Regions from separate parts of the Homo sapiens genome. Here region 2 is linked to region 1. Evidence: fine-mapped expression QTL. Tissue or cell type: whole blood. Region 1 holds a variant in brackets; the other region holds the start of a gene. All regions are shown on one strand. Distances are from middle to middle.

Region 1 (10,116 bases):
CTAAAAATACAAAAAATTAGCCCAGTGTGGTGGCACATGCCTGTAATCCCAGCTACTCAGGAGGCTGAGGCAGGAGAATCGCTTGAACCCGGGAGGCGGAGGTTGCGGTGAGCTGAGATCGCGCCATTGCACTCCAGCCTGGGCAACAAGAGCGAAACTCCATCTCAAAAAAAAAAAAAAAAAGAATTGCAGGCCAGGCACGGTGGCTCATGCTTGTAATCCCACCACTTTGGGAGGCCAAGGTGGGTGGACTGCTTGAACCCAGAAGTTCAAGACCAGCCTGGACAACATGGCGAAACCCCATCTCTGCAAAAAATAGCAAAAAATTAGCCGGGCATGCTGTTTGATGCTTGTAGTCCCAGCTACTTGGGAGGCTGAGGCATGAGAATTACTTGAACTCAGGAGGCAGAGGTTGCAGTGAGCTGAAATCATGCCACTGCAACTCCAGCCTGGGTGACAGAATGAGACCCTGTCTCAAAAAAAATAAATGAATTGCTTAACATTTCTGATATTTGTTATTTAGAATATTGCCCTATTAGATTAAAACATACTGTTATTGGAACTCTGTATTGCATTAGCCTTTATTATGCTAAACCTAAACACCTAATACTACATGCGTTACCAGAATTCTCTATAAATACACCTAATTTCATTTTAAGGACAAACTAGAATCCGTTAGGAATGTAATTTTGATGTAAACCGTTCAATTCCAAATGACTTTTTGAAAGGCAGATTCAAACAGTGAAGGAGAGAGTGCTCAACTTGGACACAAAATCCCTTAAATTTTCATCAGATTTTCTTCAAAATGGAGTTGAGGGTATCCCTGCTGCTAGAGGATTGGTCCTACAGGGTTTTCAGCTTTGAGCTAGTTCACAGCTTAGGACAATACAAATTCTACACAGAGAAATAGGTAGCATTATGATGTAAACTGTCCCCCTCCCACCAAACAAAAACCACATGGGCCTGTCTTTATCAGAGCTATTTTATTTTAGCTGAATCATTTTGTAGATTGTAGTACGTTTCCCTGAATTTTATTACTCAGAATCCTTTGAAATAGGCCAGGCACAGTGGCTCACACTTGTAATCCCAGCACTTTGGGAGGCCAAGGTGGGCAGATTACTTTAGGTCAGGAGTTCGAGACCAGCCTGGCCAACATGACGAAACTCCATCTCTACTAAAAATACCAAAATTAGCCAGGTGTGCCGGCACGTGCCTGTAATCCCAGCTACATGGGAGGCTGAGGCAGGAGAATCACTTGAACCAGGAGGTGGAGGTTGCAGTGAGCCGAGATCGCACCACTGCACTCTAGCCTGGGTGACAGAGTGAGACTCCATCTCAAAAAAAAAAAAAAAAAAAATTCTTTGAAATAGTTACTTTTTAAATTACCTAATATACCACTTTCTTTTCTGCCAAAATTATGAATGGTTTTCCAGTTCAAACTTAGACACACAGTTTACCATTTAAGGCTCCAGGTCTCAGTTTCTCCTCCTAACTTTCCAGCATCTGCCCATACTCTGTATAAGCCACTTGAACTCTGGCTTTGGCTGTTAATCTGTAAATGTCCTAATGCCAGCAACAATATCCTCTTATATACAAATAATTCCAAGCATAGGTAGTCTTCTTGTTTAAAAAGGGGAGGGGGCAGAACTTGCCTTGATTAGATTAGTATGAGTTTCTTTTCTGAATGGCTACGATATTTTAATCTGTGATATTTAAATTATCACCTTATATCCCTCCACGAATTTTCCTGTGCATTAGTCTGATCTCACCAACATTCGTTAATTCAACAGGTAGGAATCCTCAACCTGTGCCTAGGATTCAGCAACAAACCACCTGGAACACATGGTCCCTTAGCACTTGAAGAGGTAGGAATCCTTACTGTAAATACAGTACTCAATTATACTCAGATTTAGTATTTACACTGTTAAGGACTGAGCTTGTCCCCCTAAAATTCACAGGTTAAAGCCTAACCTGCTATGTGACTGTAGACAGAGCCTTTATAAGGGGATTAAATGAGGTCATAAGAATGAGTCCCTAACCCACCAGGACTAGTGTCCTGGTAAGAAGAGGGAGGCACACCAGGAGTTTGCCGGCACGGAGGAAAAGCCCTGTGAGGACACGGGGAGGGCAGCTATCTGTTTACACACCAGGAAGAAATGTCTCACCAGATACCAACCCTGGCCGTCTCCTGGATTTTGGATTTCCAATCTCCAGAACTGTGAGAAAATAAATTTCTGTTTAAGCCACTCAGCTTGTGATGTTCCTTTGTGGCAGCCTGAGCAGACCAGTAACAATATTAACAGTAATAAGGTTCTTACTTTGGGGCCTGAGATGCCTGGGAATGGAACAGGCTGTTTTGTATATGAGCATTTTTAGGGTAGAGTTCATAATTCTAGAGTTTGGATCTGTGACTTTCCACCCAAAAGTCACAAACCACTGCTCTAATGCAAACCTATTATTTCACATTTACACCTCTCACCTAGAAGTGCTTTAATACAGGCTGCTTTGTATCAGGGCTTGGTTTCCTTCTGACCTTTCAAGACATAAAAATCATTACTAGCTTGAGGCCATGCAAAAATAAGCAGTGGGCCATAGTTGACTGTTCCTTATTTTCTATCCCTAAAAAGATTTTAAAATCTAGATCTGTCAACAAGCAAGGCACCCAGCTCAATTTTTTTTTTCTTTTGAGACGGAGCCTCGCTCTTGTTGCCCAGGCTGGAGTACAGTGGCATGATCTCAGCTCACTGCAACCTCTGCCTCCTGGGTTCAAGCCATGCTCCTGCCTCAGCCTCCTGAGTAGCTGGGATTACAGACGTGTGCCACCACGCCCAGCTAACTTTTCTATTTTTGTAGAGATGGGGTTTCGCCATGTTGGCCAGGCTGGTCTCAAACTTCTGACCTCAAGTGATCTGCCCGCCTCAGCCTCTCAAAGTGCTGGGATTACAGGTGTGAGCCACCGCGCCCTGCCACTCAGCTCCTTTTCTACCATCCTGAGTAGCAGTCTATGGCAGACATACTTGACAACAACTCAGGCATACCCTGGGAAGTGACCCTGTGGTCTAAGAAGAATGTATGTTTGGAGTTCCAAGTTAAGGAATCCAGGAGTGGCCAGTCCAGAGACTGACTCCTTATCATCAATGACGGATGTCCATACCCCTGCCCCATTCCTTGGAATGCAGGCTGTATAGGGGATGGTGGCCCTTTGTATTGGGTTAAGTGGAAGTTG[T/C]TAGGTAGAGGTTGCTATGTGAAAATGACATGTTAGACTGCATGCTTTTAAAAAACAGTAGCAATTTTTGGCCGGGTGCGGTGGCTCATGCCTGTAGTCCCAGCACTTTGGGAGGCCGAGGCGGGCGGATCACGAGGTCAGGAGATCGAGACCATCCTGGCTAACACGGTGAAACCCCGTCTCTACTAAGAATACACACACCCAAAAATTAGCTGGGTGTGGCGGCGTGCACCTGTAGTCCCAGCTGCTGGGGAGGCTGAGGCAGGAGAATGGTGTGAACCTGGGAGGCAGAGCTTGCACTGAGCCGAGATCGCGCCACTGCACTCCCGCCTGGGCGACAGAGCGAGACTCCGTCTCAAAAAAAAAAAAAAAAAAAAAAAAAAAAAAAAAAAAGGAGCAATTTTCCTGTCCAGCCCACTGCTCCTGGACTGTTGTGTAATGTAAGTCCACAATAAACCCTATGTCTCATTCACTGGCTCCACATCTCTTCTTCAGCCTCCCTCACGTGGTACCATCCCCACTAGAGTCAATAGCAGTCTGGCATGACAAGTAGTAGCATTAAGCAGAGCCATCTCATGCTTGTTTAACATTTGGAAATCTGCAATGAAAATTATCAAGTTTTGGCTGGGCGTGGTGGCTCACACCTGTAATCCTAGCACTTTGGGAGGCCGAGGCCGAGGTCAGGAGTTCGAGACCAGCCTGGCCAACGTGGTGAACTCTCATCTCTGGGAGAAAAATACAAAAATTAGCTGGGAGTGGTGGTGGGCGTCTGTAGTCCCAGCTACTCAGGAGGCTGAGACAGGAGAATCGCTTGAACCCGGGAGGTGGCGGTTGCAGTGAGCCGAGATTGTGCCACTGCACTCCAGCCTGGGCGACAGAGGGAGACTCCGTCTCAGAAAAAAAAAAAAAAGAACTTTCTGCTGCTTTGAGGGGAGACTGAAGAAGTCAGGCTCTAATGCATCCCTGCTGACCTTGGGATGGGAACAGGGCAAACAGCATTTTCAAGTCATTTCGAAGGAGCATTTGGTTATCATGTTCCTTCTCTACCCTTACTTAAATCTAAGGTGAAGAGTGGAAGCAAAGCCTCATGGTTAAAAACATGCTGGAGCCAAAACACCTGGGTTGGAGTCCTGGCTCTTTCATTACTAGCTATGACTCCAGCAAGCTATTTAACCTTTCAGAACCTATTTTCCCCTCTTTAAGGGGCTTTCAGGGTTAAACGAGTCAACATTTGTTACCTGTTGCCTGGCTCAAGGTTAAAAACTATACAATTTTTTAAAATTCCAGTAAGTGATTTAACACTTTTGCCAGCTGGAGCTAAGGTTTTAAAAAAAGAAGAGGATGTCAGGACAGAACAAAAGAATATAATGGGAGCTTGCAACCTCCTCTTCACTCCCATTACCATGGTGCCACTGAGGTTGGGAGTCCCTGACTTCCCTGTTTAATTCAGGTTCTAATTAAAGACATACATTTGAACTGTAAAATCAGAGAAATCCAATAAGGAAGCCATAGTAGTCCCAGCAATTTATAATAAAACCAAAGACAAACCTAAGAGATTCCAGTCTGTGCCCACACCTCATTATGAAAAGATGCTTAAGTATAACCCACATGATCTTTAAAAGGCAGGAACTGGTGAGTAAGGTGAGTCACAGACCCAGAGTGTGTAGGTGGTACAAGCTACACTTGGCCTGAGGTTCTGATTCTTAAATAGATGAGCTATATGATTCTGCGGCTGCCAAAGCTTATCTCTGGTAAGGTTAATTATGGTTGAATTCATAGTCACCAGGAAGAATAGCAGAATTCTAAAGAAACTCTTAAAACCCAGAGGTGCTATAACTGAGCAACATAATGAAAGGGCAAATTTAAAGTGGCCAGGGGTAGTGTAAGGCAGATTAACATTTACAGTGAGTAAACTCAGGAATGGTCAGATCTGCTGTCAAAAGACAAGTCAAACATCATGGAAGTATTGTTGGAGAAGGATAACGAGTAGCTACAGAAGTTACATTGATGATGAGGCAGTTATCTAAGAAATGACAGATAAGATATTAAAAATGGTCTTTATATACTGATAACTACTGAACTACAAAAATGTGTAGTTTTGTAAAAAATCAAAGAAATTTACTATTTCAGTTGACAAGTCTTTCCCTCCAACTTCAGTATCCACTTTCCCTCATTTAACAGTATCCAAAAATGCATTTAGGAATATGATAATCATTTCTGGTCTAAGCATGCAATTTAAGGGATTTCCTGCTTGAGCTAGCCCTATGGTTGTCTTCCAACTGCCTACTAGGGAAATAATTTATCATTTTTTGACATAACCCAGTGGTTCCCAGATTTTGCTGCACATTAGAACTATGGGACTTGAAAAAACATTCCTCTGCTCGGGTCACACTCCATACTAATTAATTCAGAATGTCTGGATGTGGGAGTCGGGCATCACTTTTTTTTTTTTTGAGACGGAGTCTTGATCTGTAGCCCAGGCTGGAGTGCAATGGTACCATCTCGGCTCACTGCAAGCTCCGCCTCCCGGGTTCGAGTGATTCTCCTGCCTCAGCCTCCTGAGTAGCTGGGACTACAGGCGTCCACCACCGTGCCCGGCTAATTTTTGTATTTTTAGTAGAGATGGGGTTTCACTGTGTTGGCCAGGCTGGTCTTGAACTCCTGACCTCAGGTGATCCGCCCACCTCGGCCTCCTAAAGTGCAGGGATTACAGGCGTGAGCCACCGCACCCAGCGAGTTTTTTTTTTTTTTTTTTTTTTTTAATGATTCCCAGGTTATTCCAAAATGCAGCAGTTTGAGAACCATGGACATAATCTTACAGAGTTGCTCCACTTCTTATGATTAAAATTGCGAAGGCTGGGTGCTACTCTCCATCATATTTGGAGATGAACCATTTTACAGAGGTTTCTTGGGGCATGCTTTGACTGGATCCCTGAACAGTTAGGTTGAGGGATTAAAAAGACTTTTAAAGTGGATGACTTAAATCCTACCCATCGTCTGTATTACTATATCCAATTATTTAGAATTCTAGTTCCCACTTGGGCTGCAAATTCAAAAGAATTGAACTGCCTTAATGATTACTTTTATGTATATCCTAAATTCCTGATGTGAACATAATTCCTATTTTAGATAATACAAATAAGATTATTTAAAGCAATTATTTCTAAGGCCAGGTGTGATGGCTCACACCTGTAATCCCAGCAATTTGGGAGGCCGAGGTGGGCAGATTACTTGAGGTCAGAAGTTCAAGACCAGCCTGGACAACATGGGGAAACCCTGTCTCCACTAATACAAAAAAAAAAAAAAAAAATTAGCCGGGCGTGGTGGCATGCGCCTGTAATCCCAGCTACTGGGGAGCCTGAGGCATAAGAATTGTTTGAACCTGGGAGGCAGAGGTTGTGGTGAGCTGGGATCGTGTCACTGCACTCCAGCCTGGGTGACAGAGTGAAACTGTGTCAAAAAGATAAAATAAGCAATTATTTCTTACTCAATATATCACTCATAATATTCATTATCTTTATTTCAAGCCCAGGAGAAGCAATTCATAACTTGCCTGCATTCTGCAGGCCCCATTAGTACCTAGTTGTAGTAACTGGTGAATTAAAACCATTACAAACCTGCAGTTTCAGGATGCTAGTTATTAGAACACCTGTCCATATGACTTTCTAACTTCTTGGCTCTCCTTCTGATCTGACTACCTCCATTAATTTGTTTGCACTCCCTAACTTGAAATCGTGACCTCATTTGTTCCTTTGTCAGTCTAGACACCCATAGCATGACCTGTCCTAAATTCCTACCCCACACTCTTAACCTCCTGACATCTCCACCTACGTGTACCTACCCCAGACCAATTTCACATTCTAACAGAGGGAGATAAACAACCAAAATGTTTAGTGTGCTAAATAAAGAGTAAGAACTACAAGCCAGGCATGGTGGTTCACACCTGTAATCCCAGCACTTCGCGAGGCTGAGGTAGGAGGATAACCTGAGCTCAGGAGTTTTGAGATTAGCTTGGGCAACATAGCAAGACCTCATCTCTACTAAAAATAAAAAAAGTTAGCTGGGTGTGGTGGCACGCATTTTAGTCCCAGCTACTTGAGAGGCTGAGGCGGGGAGGATCATTTGAGCCCAGGCCAAGGCTGCGGTGAACTATGATCACACTACTGCACTCCAGCCTGGGTGATGCTGTCTCAAAAACAACCACCAAAAAATCCCCCAAAAACTATGAGTCTTGGTGCTGAGCAACTGGTAGTCACATGCAGAAGAATGAAGCTGGAGCCCTAAGTCACAATAAAAAAAATTAAAATAGACCAAAGACCTAAATGAAAGAGCTAAAAACATAAAACTCTTAGAAGAAAATAGGCATAAATCTTTATGACTTGGGTTAGGCAATGTTTTCTTAGATATAACACCCAAGCACAAGCAACTAAAGAATAGAAAAGGTGGACTTCATCAAAATTGAAAATTTTGTACTCCAAAAGACACTTCTAAGAAAGGGAAAAATGGTAGGAGAAAATGTTTACAATTCATGTATCTGACAAAGAAGTAGCACCTGAAATTTAAAACACTTGCAACTCAACAATAAAATTATAAGTAAACCAATTTAGAAATTGGCAGAGGATTTGAATACACATTTTTCCAAAGACATACAGATGGCCAGTAAGCACATTTAAAGATGCTCAACATCACTAGTCATTATAGGAATGCAAAATAAAACCATAATGAGATACTTCACACCCACTCGGAAGACTAGAACCAATCTGAAACAAGTGATCACAAGGATATTGGAGAAACTGGAATCCTCTGACACTGCTGGTGGGAATAGTAATATATAATATGGTGAGGCTACTTTAGAAGAGTTTGGCAGTTCCTCAAAGTGATACAGCCTTTCATCTCTAAGTATATACCCAAGAGAATTGGAAATGTTGATACAAAAACTTGTACATGAAAGTTCATAGCAACATCATTCATAATAATGAAACAACCCCAATGTCCAACAGATGAATGTACAATTTAAACGTGGTATACCCATACAATTACCTATATTGTTTAGCAATAAAAACGAAGCACTGATACATGCTAAGCCTCAAAAACATGCTCAAAAACAAGTGTAGAAGCCAGTCTCTGAAAAACAAATTGTATAACCCTGTTTATATGAAATGACCAGAATGAGAAAATCTAGGCCGGGCACGGTGGCTCATGCAGCTGTAATCCCAGCACTTTGGGAGGCCAAAGCGGGTGGATCACCTGAGGTCTGGAGTTTGAGACCAGCCTGGCCAATATGGTGAAACCCCATCTCTATTAAAAATTCAAAAATTAGCCAGTCGTGGTGGTGGGTGCCTGTAATCCCAGCTACTCGGGGAGGCTGAGGCAGGAGAATCACTTGAATCCGGGAGGCGGAGGGTGCATTGAGCTGACAATGTGCCACTGCACTCCAGCCTGGGTGACAGCAAGACTGTCTCAAAAAAAAAAAAAAAAAAAAAACAGAAAAAAGAAACTAGAGACAATACAATAGTGGCTGCCTAGGACTGAGGAATTTGGGAGGAAAGAAGAAAATGATGACTAATAACAATAGAATTTCTTTTTGGGGTGATGAAAATGTTCAAGAATTTTAAGAGTGGTGATGGTTGCATAACTTTGAGAATATAAGAAATTCTTAAATTGTACACTTCAAAAGGTGACTTTTGGCCAGGTGTAGTGGCTCCCAAAGTGGCTGTAAAACATTCCAGCACTTTGGGACGCAGAGGAGGACTGCTTGAGACCAGGAAGCTTGAGAACAGCCTGGGCAACATAGCAAGACCCCATCTCTTAAAAAACAAAATAGTGCTTGGTAGCACACACATTAATCCCAGCTACTCAGCAGGCTGAAGCGGGAGGATTCCTTGATCCCAGGAGTTAAAGGCTGCAGGGGACTATGATTGCGCCACTGCACTCCAGCACAAGACCCTGTCTCTTTTTTTCTTTTTGAAAAGAGTGACTTTTATCTAAAAAGTTAAAACTATAGAAGAAATTAAAGCAGGGAAGACTGATAGAGTGTGAGTTTGTGTGTGTGTTCTATCTTAAATAAGGTTGTCAAAAAAAAAAAAGATCTCAATCAAGCACAAAGAATAATCAAATAGTAAATTGTTAACATTACATATTTAAACTCCACTACCAAAATGACTGAAATATACTTTTGCTAATTTAGAAATCGAGGGACTATAATCCAAACTAAATCCTGAAATTTAAAATTACTGTTTTTGAGAATTGTAAGATTAATCGAACAAAGCCTTAAATCCTTAGTCTATATAAAGATTTTAGATTCCTTTGCCATAGTTTAAGGTAACAAAATTTAATACAGCAACAAGGACAAATGTGTATTTCAAGTTTTCCAAAAATATTTGTCACAGCTTTGCAGCCACTTTCATGCGTGTTGTATTTTTTAAATTTTCTATTTCTTTTTTTACTGTCTTTGGTTTGCCTAAATCCTCATCGGTCTTTTTTATGCTTGAGTACTCTGTAAACACTTCTGAAACAGAAAGTACACTCCTGGCCAGGCCCGGTGGCTCACGCCTGTAATCCCAGCACTTTGGGAGGTCGAGGCAGGTGCAACACGAGGTCAGGAGTTCAAGACCAGCCTGGCCAACATGGTGAAACCCCGTCTCTACTAAAAATACAAAAGTTAGCTGGGTGTGGTGGTGCACGCCTGTAATCCCAGCTATTCAGGAGGCTGAGGCAGGAGAATCGCTTGAACCAGGGAGGCGGAGGTTGCAGTGAGCCAAGATCACATCACTGCACTCCAGCCTGGGCGACAGAGCAACTGTCTCAAAAAAAAAAAAAAGTACACCCCTGAGTTTAGAGCATCTTCACCTTCCCACAGCAAGAGAGGTGTGACCTCAACTCACCATTTT
Region 2 (10,237 bases), 23 kb after region 1:
CTATAACAGCATGACCTTGAATAAGATCTGTTAATTCAGACACAAAACTGGGCACATTAAGTACCTTGGTACTTAAATCTTGAGCTGGTTGGTAAATGTGAAATAGGATCTTAATATATAATACGTTTGCTGCTAATGAAAAATTTCCCCTTTCAAATGTACAGGTAAAGAACTAATATGCTAACTACTATAAGGACCAGGGTCAAGAACTTTAAGATTGTATGTGACATCTGGCTGGGCTCAGAGGCTCATGCCTGTGATCCCAGCACTTTGGAAGGCCGAGGTGGGTGGATCACCCGAGGTCGGGAGTTTGAGACCAGCCTGAACAACATGGAGAAACCCCGTCTCTACTAAAAACACAAAATTAGCCAGGCGTGGTGACACATGCCTGTAATCCCAGCTACTCGGAAGGCTGAGGCAGGAGAATCGCTTGAACCCGGGAGGCTGAGGTTGCGGTGAGCTGAGATCGCACCATTGCACTCCAGCCTGTGCAACAAGAGCGAAACTCTGTCTCAAAAAAAAAAAAAGAAAAAAAGACTGAATGTGACATCTGCAGCTCTCAGTATACCGAGAAATAGAAAAAGATAAAGCACATGTAGCAGAGACTGGTGGATCTGAGTGAAGAACATATGGGAAGGAGTGTTTCTCAGTGTTGCAGGTTAGTGGAATACCTCTACTAGGATGGCCACTTAGGGCCAATGACTAGATGCTAAGAAAACAAAAAAAACAATATAAAAGCTAGTCTAGGCCGGGTGCTGTGGCTCACACCTGTAATCCCAGCACTTTGGGAGGCTGAGGCGGGCGGATCACGAGGTCAGGAGTTCAAAACCAGCCTGACCAACATGATGAAACTCCGTCTCTACTAAAAATACAAGAATTAGCCAGGTGTGGTGGCGGGCGCCTGTAATCCCAGCTACTCGGGAGGCTGAGGCAGAAGAATCGCTTGAAACCAGAAGGCGGAGGTTGCAGTGAGCCGAGATTTTGCCACTGCACTCCAGCCTGGGCAACAAGAGGGAAACTTCGTCTCAAAAAAAAAAAAAAAAAAAAAAAGCTAGTCTACCTTCAGGTTGAACAGAACTTAAATGCTTGTACTAGCTGATACTTACTTATATCCCTGGCAAGGGTGAAGTATGTAAGTTATTTAAGACACTTTTCACTATCTCAAAAGTAACCAAAATAGATCAAGATCAAAATAACCCTGAAGATGAACATGTAATTTATAGTCAGTAACAGAAAAACACAGGTTCTGTTTAAATAATCTCCATAGTTTAACAAAATCAATTTCTAATCCTCAGTGAACTTGAAACCAAAATTTTATCTTCAGAAAAGTGCTATTTTGCCAAGTTCAACATGGCCAAACACTATTCTTCCAGTCACTCACGTTTTCAAGAACCTGCAGTCACTTAGGAAAGAAAAGACTTAAGAAGAGCCAAACTTTACAACAGAACCGGAGCCACACACACAGGCAGTTCCACAACACCAAATGGTAAGAACCTCACATTCCCTCCTCCCCATTATTTACAGGTCAAGCCCCAGGAGACAGAAAAGAGAAAGACACATTAAGGAAGCCAACAAGTGGTTGGGAATCAAACTCAAGTCTAATCACTTCTACTCAACACCACTACAAAGAAATCTCAAGAGTGGAGAAGCCATCGTTCCTGAAAGTTTCCCATTATCAATCTGGGGGTTTCACTTTGGTTAAGCTCACAAAATGATGTTTTCACAGTAGGACATTAATGCCTAGCTGTGGTAGGTGTTCAACAAATGTCAATAATATTAACCCTGCTTTTTGAGTAAGTTATCTAAAGCTATAGATACTAACATCCAGAGAAGTCAAAAGACAGTTTTCAGTTAAGGAAAGTATTTCCTCCACTGTGCCTCGCACTCACTGGCATTGCCTATAAAATGCAACCTTCAAACTGGAGACAGTTTATCAAGATCCTTTATTTCTTTAAACCGGGAGCAAAGGATTTTTTCATCTTACAGCAGAACCATATCTTCATTTGTTTTTTCCTACTTTATGAACCCTCCAAAATATAGCACTTACTTAACATCAACCTTAAAGTTGACTGCCATAGACTGGACTTGACAAAATGTTAATTTCAAATCTTCTAAACTACCCAATTTTTAAAAATTACTATTTTTTTGAACTTTAAAAAATAACATGTTTACAAATATAATTCCATTCCTATGAAGTTTTAGAAAAAATTATGGTGTTAGAATAGTGGTTATGTTGAAGGTGAATGCAGTGAGTATGTGTTAGGAGGGGAACCTTGTTCTGTATCAGTAATACTCAGTTTCTTGACCTGGTGCTTATTGCACAGGTTGGTTGCACTGTGTGAACACATAAAACCTCTATCTCTCTGTAAGTATGATATACTTCAATTACAAAAACATATATTCACTTGCTTATTGGAGAGGATGTGAAAAACATCCACATTACTTTTGAAACCAAAACTAAGTACAATCACCGATGTTAAAAGTAAAAATTTTGAAGCGACAAAATCCACTTTAGCTGTCTCAAATGAAAAGTCCTAACCAGAACTGGAAGTAGGCAAGCTCTCACAGGATTTTAGAGTCAGCAGCTAATTTCATGAGCACACGGAAGGGCTGCCTCCATGGAGTGAGAAAGAGTAGACAGAACCCATTTGAGTCCTAATAAGCATATCTAGAGCACAAGGCTACTATGATGCTGCTTTGGGGCCAAAGGAAAACCTAACTTGTATCCAATATCTATCCCAAAGGTTATCTAAACACATTTGTAACCAGACTATACCTTATTTGCATTGCCTGAACCCTGAGGCCGCTGTAATCAACCTCTTTTTGCTCCAATTCTTTCCATTCATCTTCGTCCTGTAAAACAAACGCCATTTGATCAATTAAAGCTATTTGTAGACATATAACTAAGCAAATAACACACTACGAAAAGTGGATCAAGTGGCTGGAACCTAAACTAAGTATGTACTTGTCTTCTGGTCAAAGCCCTTGCTTCGTTCTGGGGCAAACTAGGCTAAATGGAGGACAAACATGCTCGTAGGCTAACACTATACTTCCGCTGGGTTCCTGCATGGGAGCTGTTACTTTAAGCAACTAAGAAAAGCCGAAGGAAGAAGTCAATAGGAATTTCACAACTACATTTCTACTTCAACCTTGCCACCGAGAGTTTTCTTTTTCTTTCACGGGCTTAGAGACTAAGTCATCACAAAAGAGCTGCTACAAATGCGGCTGCTGAAAGCGAAAATTCAGCTCAAACTACTGGGCTGAGGTCAGCACACGGAATTACTCAGCCTAGACGTCACCCGATAAACGCTGCTCTGTGCTGGGCACTGCGGCCCCAGACCTAGTGCCCCCGGAGGGTGGCGCCGCCCGGGCCTTGGCTAACGCCGAGCGACGCGGGGTGGGAAGGGCGGCTCCACCGCGGATATCGGAAGGGGTCCCGGCCCTGGCGAGCCCAGCCCGAGGTGGAGAGCCTGCGTCACGTGGCGGCCCGCGCCCGTCCGCCCGGCCTCCGCGGCCCCTCCCGGACGCTTCCCCGGCAGGCGGGGGCGGGCACATGGGGCGCCGGCGCGCGGCCCGGGCCCCGAGTGCCGGCCTCCCGGCCCCTCACCTTCGTCACAGCCTTGGTGGCGGCCCCTGGGCCCGCAGCCCCCGCGCTGGCGGTCCCGCCGTCACCCGGCCGGGTCCCCGCGCCCGCCCCGCCGCCCGCCGCACCCGCGGCTCCACTGCTTCCGCCGGCGCTGCCCGCTGCGCCCGCGGCACTCGCCGCCCGGTTGCTCCGCTCCTTCTTCTTCTTCTTGTCCCTCTTGGCAAAGAAGTTGTCCAGGCTCCGCTCCTCCGTCTCAGCCATGGCCTCGGCCTCCTCGACCCGGATGGGTGGGGCCGGCGGCGGGCGCGGCCCGCGGGGCTCCGAGCTCGGGGTCGAGGCCGGCTCTGCGCTCACGCTGCCGGGCGCGGCGACGCCTCAGCCCCGCGGGGTCGCCGAGGCGTGCGCGGCGAGACGGGCGGCTCCCCCTGCGTGCTGGCGAGCGGTGGTACGGTCCGCCCGGGGGCTCGCGCGCCGCCGCTGTCGCCCGAGGCTGCCGGGGCTGCCGCTGCTGCTGCGACGGCGGAGCAGGATTCCGCTCTCCCCACAACCTGAGGGGAAAAGGCACGCGCGAGCCAGAGGTTCTGGCGAGAGTGCTCGGCTAGCAGCGGCGCGTGCCGGAGGAAGAGGCGCGCGCGCAGGCCTGGAGAGGAGGGGAAGGGAGTGGGGAGGGGAGGGAGAGGGAGGAGGGAGGGCGGGCCGCTAGAAGAGAGAGGAAGCGCCTGCGCCTGCGTATTTTGCTCTGCCTGCCGCTGTGGGATCGCCAAGGGGCGGGCGGCGGGAGGAGATGGAGGCGGAGCTGGAAAGAGAGCCAATCAGGTGCCAGGACGAAGCTCTTAGGTGACAATCCCTGACCCAGACGGGGCGGAGTCCAAGCATGGGGGCGGGGAGAGGAGGGCATATGCAAAATAAGTGACGTGCCGGGCGACTCCGGTTTCCCGATTGGCCGAGGGTTTAGTCTTGAGGGCGGGCATGTTGAGGGCTGGTTGATGACTTGGCTAAAGAGGTCCAGCAGGAGGGGCAGTGGGTTCCTTTTGGACGCATGCGCAGGATGCACGTGTGTTTCCTGGCCCAGAACAAACCGTGGCCCCATAGTAGTCGTTTGAACTGTCGCGAAACGGACAGGCACTGCGTTAAGCCAACTGTGTTAAAGATTGTTCCTCTCCTCTGATCGCTTCTGTACTTCCACCCCCTCTGGAGTGGCAACCATTACTTTTCTTCTTTACCGGTTGATTGTGAAAGTGAGAGGAGCAGTGAGCCTGAAGTTTAGGTCCCATTTACTAAAAGATCTTTCATAGGCTGGTTGGTAGGTAGAAAGGGATTTTGTCTGAACTCCACCCTCTGGATTATGTTTACCAAGGTCAAGTTCAATAAATCCTATCGTCAAGTCCCTAATCTGTAAAGTGGGTATACTATTTCTTACAAGATAGGGGGATGGAGGGAAGAGAGTCAACATTATTAGCTGCTCAGCACATTGCTTAACGCCCTGACTTGAGTCTAGATGATGATACAGTTTATCCTTAGCTTCTATCCCTGATAAAAGGAGGGGACTGTCTTATCATAGGGGTGGAGACCAAAATGCCCAGGCGAAAGCCAGGTTTAAATGGGTTTAAAGCCCATTTAAATACCCTTGGGGCCTTGAAAATGAAATGAATTCTATATGCAAAAGGTGGTCTAAAGTAAGCTCTTAAACTTTCTACTTCCTCCTTCTAAAAGCAGAAGAGGGAGCTGTCACAACCATTGAGGAAATGACTCAGACAAATGTTGGTAGCCATATGGGGTAGATAGAATCCAGCCAGTAAATGGAGAGACTTCTTCGTCTTTTCCTTTACAGTTACCCCATTAAAGTTTCTCTTTTCCTACCCCCTACTTACACTGCTATTAAAGAATTAACTTCTGGCTGGGCGCGGTGGCTCACGCCTGTAATCCCAGCACTTCAGGAGGCCGAGGCAGGCGCATCACCTGAGGTCAGGAGTTCGAGACCAGCCTCACCAAAATAATGAAACCCCGTCTCTACTAAAAACACGAAAATTAGCCGGGCGTAGTGGCTAACGCCTGTAATCCCAGCTACAGGTTGAGGCTGGAGAATTGCTTGAACCCGGGGGTGCGGAGGTTGCAGTAAGCCGAGATCGCCTCATTGCAATCCAGCCTGGGCAACAACAGTGAAACTCCGTCTCAAAAAAAAAAAAAAAGTCTAACTTCTGAATGTCAAAAGAAATCAAGGACCTAGCCTTGGCCAGCAAGTAGCTTGAGCTTATACATATACTATTCCCCAAACATGAACAGCTCCCAAGGTGACTTCCTTCTATGACAACATATATCTTCCTGTGATGCAGGCCAGGTTCAGTACTGCCCATCACCATCACCCTCCCTTACCATCGCTAATCAAATTTATTTTCTTTCTTTTTTTTCTTTCCTTCTTTTTTCTCCCTTCCTCTTTTCTTTCCTTCTTTTCTTCCTCCCCCCTCTTTCTTCCTTCCTCCCTCCCTCTCTTTCATTTATTTATTTATTTATTTACTTACTTATTTTTTGAGGCAAAGTCTTGCTCTTGTCACCAGGCTGGAGTGCAATGGCATGTCAGCTCGCTGCAACCTCTGCCTCCCAGGATCAAGCGATTCTCCTGCCTTAGCCTCCTGAGTAGCTGGGATTACAGGCACCCGCCACCACACCCAGCTAATTTTTGTATTTTTAGTAGAGACGGGGTTTCACCATGTTGGCCAGGCTGGTCTCAAACTCCTGACCCTCGTGATCCACCCACCTCAGCCTCCCAAAGTGCTGGAATTACAGGTGTGAGCCACCATGCCCGGCCCTCTCCCTCTCTTTCTTTCCTCATCTATGAAGCACTTATTTTGCTATATTTCGGGCAAAGTGCTTTATTCAAAAGTGAGTAATTTGTGATTCCTGCATTCAATTCCCTTATAATCTAGAAGAGAAGATCTAGATATAAATAAGTTTCAGTTATTTATATCTTTCTTAAGTCCTTATCAATTCATCATTGTCTTGAAAGAATTAATGACTTGAGAAAATACACAGAAGGAACAGTAGTTGAGGGCTGACGCTGCAGAATTTCCCACTACATTTTTCAGTGTGATTGATGGCATGATCCCAGAACTTGATCATGTGTAAGAAATTCAGGTCAGGCCAGTAGAGAGACCAGTGTCTTTGTGGTTGTGTCATTGTTTGTAGTAATTCTCTCCTCTGTGAAGCTGGTCCCTTCCTCTTTGAATCACCTGCCCTAAAATTGACAGCATCTGTTCCCATCAGTTGCTCCTTTTAAACCTCCCCTACCACCCTTCTCCAGATTGGTTGCACAGTGCCCTGAATCATGCTATCATTATCATCGTTACCAGACACCCCCTCATCTTTGAAGCATCCTTCTGCCCTCTCTCTCTTTTTTTCTTTTTAAGAGGCGGGGCTCAAGCAATCCTCTGGCTTCAGCCTCCAGAGTAGCTGGGACTACAGGCAGGTGCCATCATGTACAGCTGAATTTTTTTTTTTTTTTTTTTACATTTTTAGAGAAAGGGATCTTGCTATGTTGCCCAGGCTGGTCTGGAACTCCTGGGCTCAATTGATCCTGCTGCCTTGGCCTCCTGAGTAGCTGGGATCACAAGTAGGAGCCGCTGTGCCCGGCTCCTCCAGCTCTCTCTTGACAGAGGTGTCTTCCCCTCTGCTGTCCAATGTGTTTGGACCGTCTGCATACTTAAAGCAAACAGACTTTCACTTGTACTTGCCAGATGGAAAACTTGTATAGTAATGCAGACTATTCCCAGGTATTTCTGCACATCTTCCAAGGTTCCTAATGCTGTCTGAACATGGCAGTTTCCCTCTGGGTCCTCTGAAGTGGTGCAATCCGAAGGACATCATATATCTCCCTCAACAAGGCCTGCTGAGTTCCAATATTCCATGAGCTCAAGAGCTGGCAAAGGGCAGTTGAGCCCAGCCCCATTGTTTCTGAGTTCTTTTCTGCTGAGCTATTTGATCCAAGATCCATTCTGCTACCTAGGCTGGAAATTCCACTCATGCTCAGCTCAAAGGAATGCAGCTCATGCTGGCCAAAGTGTTCACCAGGAAATGGGTGGCTAGAATTCTTCTTTTCATTTCTGGTTTCCTCTCTAACATCTGTAAGGCCAACTATGCCACTGCCTGAACTGTCCCCTTTTCAACTGGGGAGCAACTACTTACAGGTCATCTCTTCTGGGAGTCTTTTCTTATTCTCTACAGGCAGCTTGATTTCCTAAACTTCAGAGGCCCAGAGTCTTTTCATTTGGTATGATCGTTGATGCCTTCCTGGTATTCGCATGATTGGTTTGTTATTTAACCACTCTCATTCATTCACTCAAGTATATAAAACATGTATTTAATGAGCACCTACTATATGCCGGGCCCTATGTTAGGAGTTAAAGGAGAGATAAGCCCTGCCTTCACAGAGCTTATTGTACACTAAGCTGGTAACTAGAAGGAGACACACAGGAACACCTACAAAAGCACATTGAAAACTCTTGAAGGCAGGAATGGCATTGAGCATATAGCCTATATCACACAAGCATTTAACTGATGTTTGTAAAATGAAAAATGTCTCCATTAATCTCCAGTTTTCCACATTAACAGAGGACTGCACAAATCATGGACTCTAAAAGTGTTTCCTTGTTGGCTTATGAGCATAGGCTAACTCTGCCACACATAACAAATAATTCAACCTTCTCCCTCAACCTCAAGTTCCTCCTTAGCTCATTTTTGACATTAGGGTCCTAGTTGGAGGATACATGGAGAGCAAGAGGAGGCCCCAGACAACAGCAACTATCCAGGAGAGCTTATTTCCAGAAAGAGAAAAGGGCTGCCATACACCCCCCTTCTCCTAGACACAGACACACACACACACACATACACCCACCACCATGGCTTGAGAAGGGAGTCAGACTCATTAACCCCACCCCCAATGGGTCTGGTTTGCTGATTGTTGAACCACATAAAATTGCTGCTATTTGACTGTTTTTGACCTGCCAAAAACAATCATTTCAAAAGGTTAAACCTAACATATTAGAAAATAAACCAAAAAGTTCTGTAAATAAATGAAAAGCTTGGGAACAACCAACCTATCCATCAAGGTGACCTCCTTGAGTGTCTCGGTGAGGGAAGGGCTGCAATGTGATGACAATTGAATGATCAGCAACCGAATCAACTTTATTGTATGGAGAATGTGTGAACTGAAGGATGAGGGAAGAGCCTGGAGAGTAGAAAAGAGGAAGGAAAAAGAAATAGGATAAAGCCATGAGGCCAGAAGTTGGCACTTATTACCCACCACTGTCCAAGAAAGAGCAGTGTGAAATTTGTTTTCACATAGACGTGCCCTGCTGTAAGGTGGAGATGATTCAGTAGACCGCACCCTGATTTGGCTGAAATAGCCCTCAAAAGGTCAGCTTTCCTTAACTCTTGGGATACACTCACCAACCAGCCTGTTGATGACTAACTTGACTCTCTGAGACTGCTGATATTGGGAAAAGGGTGCCCTAGTTGGGAGAGGAACATTCCAGTTACTGAAAGACTAACACTGTTAATGAATACATTGGTATGTATGTGGTTATATAGTTTGGCCTCTTATGAGTTGGATTGCTGGGAGTCAGGCTTTTTCAGGGAGATGAACCCTGACAGGACACTGATATGACTATGACCCAGGTTCAGCTCTGTGGCAAATTCGCCAAGGAAAAGCTACTCTGGGTGGCCACTTTGGGAGCCAGTCAAACGACTCTGGCACAAAGCAAGACATTCTGACTCAATCGTTTTGATCACAGAGTGCAAGGGGTATAATTACGTGGGCAAGACACGATTATTCTGTTCCTGACCCTAGCTCCATTCTTGATCTTACTTCATGATCCAACAGCTACATGTGAGATTGTCTGGCATTTTCTGCTTCTGACTCAGAGCCTCCGTATTCCTGGTTACTAGGTCACTAGGTCAATGGTATTGTCATCCTCTTTAGGCTGACAAAAAGCAGAGAGAGGGTCAGAGTGCAGGGAGTGCAGGGAAACCTTCTGCGTGCTGGGTGGAAGGCAAATCCTATACTTTCTCTCGGGGACCTTGCTTTTTACTTGGTGGTCAAGCGCATGCTTTCTAGAGTCAAATCTAGGTTCGAGTACCAGCTCTGCCTCCTCCTAGCAAGTCACTTAACTTCTCTGCATCACAGGTTTTTTCACCTGTAAAGTATGGATGATAAGCACAACTGCCTCCTGGAGTTGTGAGGATGAAATGTGGACATGAATTTAAGACCACTCAGCTCTAGTGCTTGGCAAATAGAAAAACCAATTAATGTTACAATTAGTGTGAGGGATGATGATGGTGATGATGATGATGGCATGTATCTTGATTTATAATTACACGGTGGGGGGTCTGTGGTTATTTATTATTATTTTTTTTTACAGAGTCTTGCTCTGTCACCAGGCTGCAGTGCAGTGACGCGATCTCGGTTCACTGCAACCTCTGCCTCCTGGGTTTGAGCGATCCTCCCGCCTCAGCCTCCCAAGAAGCTGGGACTACAGGCACGCGCCACCACGCCCAGCTAATTTTTTGTATTTTTAGCAGAGATAGCGTTTCACCATGTTCGTCAGTGATTTCGATCTCCTGACCTTGTGATCTGCCCGCCTCGGCCTCCCAAAGTGC

Evidence for each region. PIP is the estimated chance that this variant, and not a neighbour inherited with it, causes the effect.
Region 2: it holds the start of CDV3, and the variant in region 1 is fine-mapped to the expression of CDV3 in whole blood (TOPMed, PIP above 0.99).

What each region holds. Positions count from the first base shown.
Region 1 is chr3:133,590,305-133,600,420 of GRCh38, reverse strand. It overlaps TOPBP1 (DNA topoisomerase II binding protein 1), which reads left to right. Exons shown (of 28, transcript NM_007027.4): 28 at 1-183. It overlaps LOC124909437 (a long non-coding RNA gene), which reads left to right and starts at 1,344. Exons shown (of 2, transcript XR_007096110.1): 1 at 1,344-1,865; 2 at 1,959-2,246. The variant T/C (reference allele first, on the strand shown) is at 3,227.
Region 2 is chr3:133,567,655-133,577,891 of GRCh38, reverse strand. CDV3 (CDV3 homolog) reads right to left here and starts at 4,206. Exons shown (of 5, transcript NM_017548.5): 1 at 3,608-4,206; 2 at 2,777-2,853. The coding sequence starts at 3,847. RefSeq lists silencers at 3,238-3,627, 3,658-3,767, 3,788-4,327 and enhancers at 4,708-4,877, 4,534-5,035, 4,978-5,217.